Linked DNA regions of Homo sapiens: region 1 is linked to region 2. Evidence: fine-mapped expression QTL. A gene starts in region 2. The other region holds a variant in brackets. All regions are shown on one strand. Distances are from middle to middle. Region 1 has its middle 7.1 kb from the start of LINC02332. Region 2 holds the start of MMP14 (matrix metallopeptidase 14).

The links. PIP is the estimated chance that this variant, and not a neighbour inherited with it, causes the effect.
Region 1: its variant is the best candidate, but not a certain one, in a credible set for the expression of MMP14 in iPS cells (HipSci, PIP 0.55).

Annotation. Positions count from the first base shown.
Region 1 is chr14:22,547,295-22,552,658 of GRCh38, forward strand. It overlaps TRA and TRAC. Among named protein-coding and RNA genes, the nearest start is that of LINC02332, 7.1 kb to the right of the region's middle. RefSeq lists enhancers at 2,973-3,112, 3,203-3,282, 3,293-3,452, 3,543-3,592. The variant T/C (reference allele first, on the strand shown) is at 2,926.
Region 2 is chr14:22,834,476-22,839,839 of GRCh38, forward strand. MMP14 (matrix metallopeptidase 14) reads left to right here and starts at 2,110. Exons shown (of 10, transcript NM_004995.4): 1 at 2,110-2,450. The coding sequence starts at 2,343. It overlaps MRPL52 (mitochondrial ribosomal protein L52), which reads left to right. Exons shown (of 5, transcript NM_180982.3): 5 at 1-562. RefSeq lists a silencer at 1,768-1,984.

The DNA.
Region 1 (5,364 bases), 290 kb before region 2:
CAAGATTGATAGCTTGTGCCTGTCCCTGAGTCCCAGTCCATCACGAGCAGCTGGTTTCTAAGATGCTATTTCCCGTATAAAGCATGAGACCGTGACTTGCCAGCCCCACAGAGCCCCGCCCTTGTCCATCACTGGCATCTGGACTCCAGCCTGGGTTGGGGCAAAGAGGGAAATGAGATCATGTCCTAACCCTGATCCTCTTGTCCCACAGATATCCAGAACCCTGACCCTGCCGTGTACCAGCTGAGAGACTCTAAATCCAGTGACAAGTCTGTCTGCCTATTCACCGATTTTGATTCTCAAACAAATGTGTCACAAAGTAAGGATTCTGATGTGTATATCACAGACAAAACTGTGCTAGACATGAGGTCTATGGACTTCAAGAGCAACAGTGCTGTGGCCTGGAGCAACAAATCTGACTTTGCATGTGCAAACGCCTTCAACAACAGCATTATTCCAGAAGACACCTTCTTCCCCAGCCCAGGTAAGGGCAGCTTTGGTGCCTTCGCAGGCTGTTTCCTTGCTTCAGGAATGGCCAGGTTCTGCCCAGAGCTCTGGTCAATGATGTCTAAAACTCCTCTGATTGGTGGTCTCGGCCTTATCCATTGCCACCAAAACCCTCTTTTTACTAAGAAACAGTGAGCCTTGTTCTGGCAGTCCAGAGAATGACACGGGAAAAAAGCAGATGAAGAGAAGGTGGCAGGAGAGGGCACGTGGCCCAGCCTCAGTCTCTCCAACTGAGTTCCTGCCTGCCTGCCTTTGCTCAGACTGTTTGCCCCTTACTGCTCTTCTAGGCCTCATTCTAAGCCCCTTCTCCAAGTTGCCTCTCCTTATTTCTCCCTGTCTGCCAAAAAATCTTTCCCAGCTCACTAAGTCAGTCTCACGCAGTCACTCATTAACCCACCAATCACTGATTGTGCCGGCACATGAATGCACCAGGTGTTGAAGTGGAGGAATTAAAAAGTCAGATGAGGGGTGTGCCCAGAGGAAGCACCATTCTAGTTGGGGGAGCCCATCTGTCAGCTGGGAAAAGTCCAAATAACTTCAGATTGGAATGTGTTTTAACTCAGGGTTGAGAAAACAGCTACCTTCAGGACAAAAGTCAGGGAAGGGCTCTCTGAAGAAATGCTACTTGAAGATACCAGCCCTACCAAGGGCAGGGAGAGGACCCTATAGAGGCCTGGGACAGGAGCTCAATGAGAAAGGAGAAGAGCAGCAGGCATGAGTTGAATGAAGGAGGCAGGGCCGGGTCACAGGGCCTTCTAGGCCATGAGAGGGTAGACAGTATTCTAAGGACGCCAGAAAGCTGTTGATCGGCTTCAAGCAGGGGAGGGACACCTAATTTGCTTTTCTTTTTTTTTTTTTTTTTTTTTTTTTTTTTTGAGATGGAGTTTTGCTCTTGTTGCCCAGGCTGGAGTGCAATGGTGCATCTTGGCTCACTGCAACCTCCGCCTCCCAGGTTCAAGTGATTCTCCTGCCTCAGCCTCCCGAGTAGCTGAGATTACAGGCACCCGCCACCATGCCTGGCTAATTTTTTGTATTTTTAGTAGAGACAGGGTTTCACTATGTTGGCCAGGCTGGTCTCGAACTCCTGACCTCAGGTGATCCACCCGCTTCAGCCTCCCAAAGTGCTGGGATTACAGGCGTGAGCCACCACACCCGGCCTGCTTTTCTTAAAGATCAATCTGAGTGCTGTACGGAGAGTGGGTTGTAAGCCAAGAGTAGAAGCAGAAAGGGAGCAGTTGCAGCAGAGAGATGATGGAGGCCTGGGCAGGGTGGTGGCAGGGAGGTAACCAACACCATTCAGGTTTCAAAGGTAGAACCATGCAGGGATGAGAAAGCAAAGAGGGGATCAAGGAAGGCAGCTGGATTTTGGCCTGAGCAGCTGAGTCAATGATAGTGCCGTTTACTAAGAAGAAACCAAGGAAAAAATTTGGGGTGCAGGGATCAAAACTTTTTGGAACATATGAAAGTACGTGTTTATACTCTTTATGGCCCTTGTCACTATGTATGCCTCGCTGCCTCCATTGGACTCTAGAATGAAGCCAGGCAAGAGCAGGGTCTATGTGTGATGGCACATGTGGCCAGGGTCATGCAACATGTACTTTGTACAAACAGTGTATATTGAGTAAATAGAAATGGTGTCCAGGAGCCGAGGTATCGGTCCTGCCAGGGCCAGGGGCTCTCCCTAGCAGGTGCTCATATGCTGTAAGTTCCCTCCAGATCTCTCCACAAGGAGGCATGGAAAGGCTGTAGTTGTTCACCTGCCCAAGAACTAGGAGGTCTGGGGTGGGAGAGTCAGCCTGCTCTGGATGCTGAAAGAATGTCTGTTTTTCCTTTTAGAAAGTTCCTGTGATGTCAAGCTGGTCGAGAAAAGCTTTGAAACAGGTAAGACAGGGGTCTAGCCTGGGTTTGCACAGGATTGCGGAAGTGATGAACCCGCAATAACCCTGCCTGGATGAGGGAGTGGGAAGAAATTAGTAGATGTGGGAATGAATGATGAGGAATGGAAACAGCGGTTCAAGACCTGCCCAGAGCTGGGTGGGGTCTCTCCTGAATCCCTCTCACCATCTCTGACTTTCCATTCTAAGCACTTTGAGGATGAGTTTCTAGCTTCAATAGACCAAGGACTCTCTCCTAGGCCTCTGTATTCCTTTCAACAGCTCCACTGTCAAGAGAGCCAGAGAGAGCTTCTGGGTGGCCCAGCTGTGAAATTTCTGAGTCCCTTAGGGATAGCCCTAAACGAACCAGATCATCCTGAGGACAGCCAAGAGGTTTTGCCTTCTTTCAAGACAAGCAACAGTACTCACATAGGCTGTGGGCAATGGTCCTGTCTCTCAAGAATCCCCTGCCACTCCTCACACCCACCCTGGGCCCATATTCATTTCCATTTGAGTTGTTCTTATTGAGTCATCCTTCCTGTGG[T/C]AGCGGAACTCACTAAGGGGCCCATCTGGACCCGAGGTATTGTGATGATAAATTCTGAGCACCTACCCCATCCCCAGAAGGGCTCAGAAATAAAATAAGAGCCAAGTCTAGTCGGTGTTTCCTGTCTTGAAACACAATACTGTTGGCCCTGGAAGAATGCACAGAATCTGTTTGTAAGGGGATATGCACAGAAGCTGCAAGGGACAGGAGGTGCAGGAGCTGCAGGCCTCCCCCACCCAGCCTGCTCTGCCTTGGGGAAAACCGTGGGTGTGTCCTGCAGGCCATGCAGGCCTGGGACATGCAAGCCCATAACCGCTGTGGCCTCTTGGTTTTACAGATACGAACCTAAACTTTCAAAACCTGTCAGTGATTGGGTTCCGAATCCTCCTCCTGAAAGTGGCCGGGTTTAATCTGCTCATGACGCTGCGGCTGTGGTCCAGCTGAGGTGAGGGGCCTTGAAGCTGGGAGTGGGGTTTAGGGACGCGGGTCTCTGGGTGCATCCTAAGCTCTGAGAGCAAACCTCCCTGCAGGGTCTTGCTTTTAAGTCCAAAGCCTGAGCCCACCAAACTCTCCTACTTCTTCCTGTTACAAATTCCTCTTGTGCAATAATAATGGCCTGAAACGCTGTAAAATATCCTCATTTCAGCCGCCTCAGTTGCACTTCTCCCCTATGAGGTAGGAAGAACAGTTGTTTAGAAACGAAGAAACTGAGGCCCCACAGCTAATGAGTGGAGGAAGAGAGACACTTGTGTACACCACATGCCTTGTGTTGTACTTCTCTCACCGTGTAACCTCCTCATGTCCTCTCTCCCCAGTACGGCTCTCTTAGCTCAGTAGAAAGAAGACATTACACTCATATTACACCCCAATCCTGGCTAGAGTCTCCGCACCCTCCTCCCCCAGGGTCCCCAGTCGTCTTGCTGACAACTGCATCCTGTTCCATCACCATCAAAAAAAAACTCCAGGCTGGGTGCGGGGGCTCACACCTGTAATCCCAGCACTTTGGGAGGCAGAGGCAGGAGGAGCACAGGAGCTGGAGACCAGCCTGGGCAACACAGGGAGACCCCGCCTCTACAAAAAGTGAAAAAATTAACCAGGTGTGGTGCTGCACACCTGTAGTCCCAGCTACTTAAGAGGCTGAGATGGGAGGATCGCTTGAGCCCTGGAATGTTGAGGCTACAATGAGCTGTGATTGCGTCACTGCACTCCAGCCTGGAAGACAAAGCAAGATCCTGTCTCAAATAATAAAAAAAATAAGAACTCCAGGGTACATTTGCTCCTAGAACTCTACCACATAGCCCCAAACAGAGCCATCACCATCACATCCCTAACAGTCCTGGGTCTTCCTCAGTGTCCAGCCTGACTTCTGTTCTTCCTCATTCCAGATCTGCAAGATTGTAAGACAGCCTGTGCTCCCTCGCTCCTTCCTCTGCATTGCCCCTCTTCTCCCTCTCCAAACAGAGGGAACTCTCCTACCCCCAAGGAGGTGAAAGCTGCTACCACCTCTGTGCCCCCCCGGCAATGCCACCAACTGGATCCTACCCGAATTTATGATTAAGATTGCTGAAGAGCTGCCAAACACTGCTGCCACCCCCTCTGTTCCCTTATTGCTGCTTGTCACTGCCTGACATTCACGGCAGAGGCAAGGCTGCTGCAGCCTCCCCTGGCTGTGCACATTCCCTCCTGCTCCCCAGAGACTGCCTCCGCCATCCCACAGATGATGGATCTTCAGTGGGTTCTCTTGGGCTCTAGGTCCTGCAGAATGTTGTGAGGGGTTTATTTTTTTTTAATAGTGTTCATAAAGAAATACATAGTATTCTTCTTCTCAAGACGTGGGGGGAAATTATCTCATTATCGAGGCCCTGCTATGCTGTGTATCTGGGCGTGTTGTATGTCCTGCTGCCGATGCCTTCATTAAAATGATTTGGAAGAGCAGAGACTGTGCCTCTGTTTGACTGGGTTTGGTAGGAGTCATTTTCTGCTTGCTGGTGATCACTAGCTGGGCAGAGAAAAACCAAGGCATTTGTCTATGATGCTGTCCAGGAAGCCTCATTCAACAAGCTGCCTAAGTCAACCTCTTCTTGGAATAACCTCTAAAAGCTTCCGCTTAGCAGGCTATGCTGAGGGCCAGGAAAACCCACCTACCAGCTTGGACCCCTCCTCTCCCACTCTCATGCCACGCCACGGGACCACCCATAACAGGAGCCCACACACATGGGTGGCAGTGACCTGCGGCAGACAGGGACCACACAGCAAGTGTCCCCAAAATGCCACCCACTGTCTCCTGCCCTCCAGGAGCATTTCCTTTGCCTCTCCTCTCAGACTGGGTTTCCACTGAAACTGTGCATTGTCTCACAAATTCGTGGCTGGGGACCACCCACCACTCTGCTGCCTGATCCAGCCCCACGCCAGCCCTTTGAGGTGCCCAAGCTGACACCA
Region 2 (5,364 bases):
GGGAGGCTTGGCTTAGTACTCTCATCTCTGGTTCCATTCCAGTTCAGCTAAGTCTTGCTTTAAAATTTTTACCTCCTAGCTGGGTGCGGTGGCTCACGCCTGTAATCCCAGCACTTTGGGAGGCTGAGGCGGGCAGATCACAAGATCAGGAGTTCGAGACCAGCCTGGCCAACCCAGCCTGGTCAACATGGTGAAACCCTGTCCCTACTAAAGATACAAACAATTAGCCGGGCGTGGTGGGGTGCGCTTGTAATCCCAGCTACTCAGGAGGCTGAGGCAGGAGAATCGCTTAAACTCGGGAGGTAGAGGTTGCAGTGAGCCAAGGTCACACCATTGCACTCCAACCTGGGCGACAGGGCGAGACTCCGTCTCAAAAAAAAAAAAAAATTTACCTCCTTTGCAGGCCATAGGACTAGCCCAACTATGAGAAATAGCTGTTCTGTGAACGTGAAAAGGGGACAGCAGTTTTCCCAGTTTTGGCCAGGCAGTCAAGCCTTTAACAGCTCATGCACAGTTTAGGCCATGTACAGCTGGCATCTAATAAATGTTTTCATGAAAAAGATTTTCTAGCCAAGGTCCCTTTTTTGGCAAGCATCTGGTGTCAGTCTTCCTAAGATTCAGATATGTGGTCCAGGAGGTTACCCCCACTGGGAAGGCTGATGTGGGAAGAATCATACCTGGGTGTTGCGTGTTCTGCCGAGAGTGGGGTCCTGAGGTCTCCATGGTTCTGAATGCATTCCAGAGATTGGTTGAAGAGGGGCCTGTACCTCCCAACCCCAGCTTGTGTAGGAAAGCCCTACATAAGGGCTCAGCCCTCAGTCACTGTGGGGTAGGTAGCTGTTTAATAACACACACCATATACCTCCCACAAACCTGGAGGCTCCACAGGACCTGAAAAGCTTTTCATTTTATTGATCATGAATCTGAGGGCAAAAGACCTTTGTTTTCATTACAATACTGAGCACTAGACTTCTATTCTTCTGCCACAGAAGTGCATCCCTAGGATTTCTGGAGCTTCCTACCTGACCTAATTTCTGTCCACCCTCCTCTATTCCTTCCTTTGCTTTCTTCTCCCTTCCTCCTCGCACTACCTCTGTCCTCTCTCACTGGCCAAATGCAATTCTTGGATCTTAGATTTCGCTGATAGTCTAGTTTTCTGTCTCCCACACTTTTCCTGCTTCTGTTGTGCTTCTTTTCCAGACCTGTCTAGTTCCCAACTCATCTGTCTCCCTTTCTCACGGTCAGCTTTATCCTGCCCTCTCCCTTCCCTACATACCTCCACCTTTTGTTCTGAGTCCAGTAAGTCCCTAAAGGAGATTATAACTCTTTAAGAATTGCCTCCTTTTTCAGTGTAGAGGTGGAACTAAACCCCAGAGTCCCAACTCCCAATCCCTTCTTTTACAATAATTTCACCCAACTTGATTTGCTTTCCCCCAGATCCCACGGCCTTGTACCCTTTTCCTCCCAGCGAGTTCCAATTAAAGGTGCAGCCACATTACAAATGACAATAAAGGAATCACCTTTGTCTTTCTACAAAGGTTGGAGCCACAGATCCGGTATGGTTGTGGGGTTTGTTGTTGGTAGTTGGGTTATAGTTTGGATTTTTTAGCAGCAGAGGGAGGGACATAGACAGTTGTCTACAGGGCCCAGAAGATAACCCCCTATTAGTAAACTGGCCCCTTCTCCCTCTGCAGGTCTCATGGGCATGGAAGAAGACCCCACCACCATCCCACACTCTGAGCTCCTCGTTGCCCCTAGCCACATAGCCCCCAATAATTCCCACCCTGAGGTGAGACAAATGCTGAATACCAGAGGAATCAAGCCACTCAGAATATGCTTATAGGGACAAAGTCTCCCACATCCCGTCCCCTGGATCCCCCTACAGCCCCCTGCTGTCCATCGCGGCCTCAACCCCTGCAGATGGCAGCCTGCACCACAAAAAGGCAACTTAGAGGTGTTTTTTTTTTTTTTCCTTCCAGTTCTTGGTTGTAATTGGATTCAGGCTAAAACAACCACGTCCCCAACCAGGAAAGGAGGGCACTGGGGCGGGGACGGAGGAGAGGCTGTGGGAGAAGGGAGGGACCAGAGGAGAGAGCGAGAGAGGGAACCAGACCCCAGTTCGCCGACTAAGCAGAAGAAAGATCAAAAACCGGAAAAGAGGAGAAGAGCAAACAGGCACTTTGAGGAACAATCCCCTTTAACTCCAAGCCGACAGCGGTCTAGGAATTCAAGTTCAGTGCCTACCGAAGACAAAGGCGCCCCGAGGGAGTGGCGGTGCGACCCCAGGGCGTGGGCCCGGCCGCGGAGCCCACACTGCCCGGCTGACCCGGTGGTCTCGGACCATGTCTCCCGCCCCAAGACCCCCCCGTTGTCTCCTGCTCCCCCTGCTCACGCTCGGCACCGCGCTCGCCTCCCTCGGCTCGGCCCAAAGCAGCAGCTTCAGCCCCGAAGTAAGTGAGCTTCCCGGCCCTTCCCGGAGTCGCGCCCGCCGGGAGGCGAGCCCGGGGGTCTCCTAGGGGACAGCCTCTATTCGGAGAGGAGGGCTTTTGGGATCTCCGCTGCTCAGGCCTGCAGGATTCCCCCTCCCTTTCTTTTTCCTCTTCGTCTCCAAACTTCCAGATCGATCCAACTTTTGCCCGCTTCCAACCAGCTGCCCCCACCCCCTGCGCCGCCGACTCTCCTTCCCATTCCTTCTTTTTTCCCAGTCCTTGGAAGAACTTTACAACTGGGGCGAACTCCCCCTTCCCCGATTCCCTTGGGCTCTGCTCTCAGCTCTGGAACCGCCTGATAAACATTTGGACTCCGCTCAAACCCCGCGCTGTCCCGGCTCCTCGTCATGCGCGAGAGTTTGTTGTTTCTTCGACTTCCCAGCTCTCCAGCGCTCTCCCGCCGGCGCGCCCTCCGATGGGCGCTTCGGCCTCCCCGGGTGGCCCAGGCCTTCAGCGGACGAGTCTGCGGCCAGGTGGGGGTCGAGGGTGGACGGCCGAGCGTCCAGGGCCACAGCCCCCGTCTCCCCGAGAGGACCCCGCTGTGTCCCTACCCGCATCCCTGGCGTCGAGGGTCGCAGCGCCGGCGCGCTGGCCGCGTTTCCGTACACACAAAGCTCTCCTTGTGAGCCGGGCGATCGGCCGGGTCGCTGCCTCCCCCTATCCCCACCCGCGTCGGCGCCTTCAGGCCCTTTTTGTTGTTAATAGTTTTTCTGTGTTAATTGCAGGGAGCCTGGGGGCGTCGCTTGGGGAATGGGGAGAGGGTCTGGTCCGGGGTGCCCTCACGTCGGGGCTGGCTCGGGCGCCCCCCACCCTCACCCCGGCCCAGACGGTGGCCCACCGGGCCCCAGAGGAAGCTGCGTGGGAGTTGTCTGAGGAGGTTTTTCCTCTCTCTCTCTTATTTTGGGGTGAAGGTGGGAGACGGATTTAATGAGCTTCTTATTTTGGGCCATCTCAACCCACTCAGCCTGGCAAGGGCCTGGGTGCGGTTGGGAGGGGCCAGGAAGGGCCCTAGAAGGGGGATGGGATATGGGTTTGGCTTCTCCTCCTTGGTCCCACCCCGGAGAAAACTCTTTGGAAAGAATACTGTCTTCTCTCTGCGTCCCTGAAAGGGTCTGGGGCCGACTGGAAAAGTATGGCCCCAGGAATCGGGGTGGAAGACGAAACGTGGAGTGCTCAGAGACCAGGGAGAGTAAAAACCTGCCCTGGTGCTGGAGGCTGAGCCTGACTGTCCGGGAGGAGTCGTCCTCTTCCCAGGCCTAGAGTCCTCTGAGACCTGAAAGGGAGCGCCCCTAACAAAACGAGCCTGAGCATCTGGGGAGCTGCCGACCGCCAACTTCACTGCCTTACCTTTTTTCCCTCCCCTGCTTTGCTGGGTCCCCCAGGGGAGGGGCGGCTGCCCTGGCTCCGTTTTAATTGGGTCATGGGCGGTCCCAGTGCCAGAACCACCATTTGCTTCTGGGCCCAGGAAGGGAGGGAGGAGCAGCCCCAGAGGCTAGGATCCAGGGCCTACTGCAGAGCTGGAGGTCCCCCCACCCTCCCCTGGACCCCTAAGCCAAGGTGGGAGGTGTTCCGTTGACTTTCTCCTAGGGGATACCTTGCATCTCTCTCATTCGCAAAGACAAAGCCAGCCGACTGGGTTCTTTGACCCAACATAGTTGCTTTTTTCTCCAGGCCAATGTGGAGGGAAAGCTGGGGTGGTGCAGGCCTCATGCAGCTGGGTCCCTCCTACCAGGCCTCCAGAGTCCTGCACCAGCTCCAGGACAGCCCTCTCCTCCCCATGGCCTGTCTGGCGCTGGGCCCTTCCTCCCACCCAGCCGCAGACACAAGAGTCCTCTCTTCTGTGGTTTCGACCTCATAGTCTCTGTGAGGAGAGAAACTTGCCTAGGCCTGGGGGGAGGAGAGGGATGGGGGCACTTCCTTTCCAGGCCTTGCGGCTCTCTTGACTCCAGGGAAGTCCTTCATTTGACTGAGCCTTCATTTTTCTCCCGAGGGTATGGGGTGGAGGTTGTAGGTGTGAATATTTAGACCCCCCTAGCTTCTTGAACGACTCCAGAGGGGATTTCCCCCAGAGCTCCTGGATGTGGATTCTCCCCATCTCTTCTGTCCCGTCTTCCTTCTGTCGTTCTGTCTTCTCCCCATCTTCCTTCTGTCGTTCTGCTCTAGGCAAATTCTCTCAGCTTTGCTCTCTGAGGGTTGACGGGGCCTGGCCTCAGTCCTCCTGCCTTCCAGCGTCAGTAGACCAGTCCCATCCTTCCCCAAGTCCTGAAGCAGCTGCTCCTCAACCAAGGGTCATAAGCCCGGGGTGTGTTTATCCTGCAGGTATGCTAGGGGCAAAAGACATTTCCTGCATAGTTAGGCACAGGCCACAGCAGGCCTCCCCAGGCACTGGCTGTGGCATCAGCCAGAACAGGTCAGGGCAAGCCTGCAGCTCCCTGAGAGCAGCCCCGGACTGGTGTGGACTGCTTGGCTCCCTCTGGTATACCAAAGGTTAAATGTCACTCCTTCCTCTACCCCTGAGGAGGGGCTCTCAGAGCCTCAGAGCTAGGTGGTGCTAGGGTTGTTCTAGCCAAGACTGTTGGCTGGGAAAAGGCTGGGTTGTTTACATCTCGGGTTCTAGCTCGCATCAGCCTTGGGGGGGGATCACTTCCCAGAACCATGTTGCAATTCTTGCCCCTGTGGGCTCAGGTCCCCAGTCAGCTGCTCTTGAGTCACCCCCAGTCCCCATGCAAGACTACTGCCCCATCACCAGGACCTGAGCCCAGAGGTGAAGGACCATGTGGCAATCCAATCCTGATGACCTTGGCTAGGAGATACAGCACCCAACAGCAGCCTCCCCCATCTCCCCTCCAAGATCCCATCCTGGGCAACCTACAGC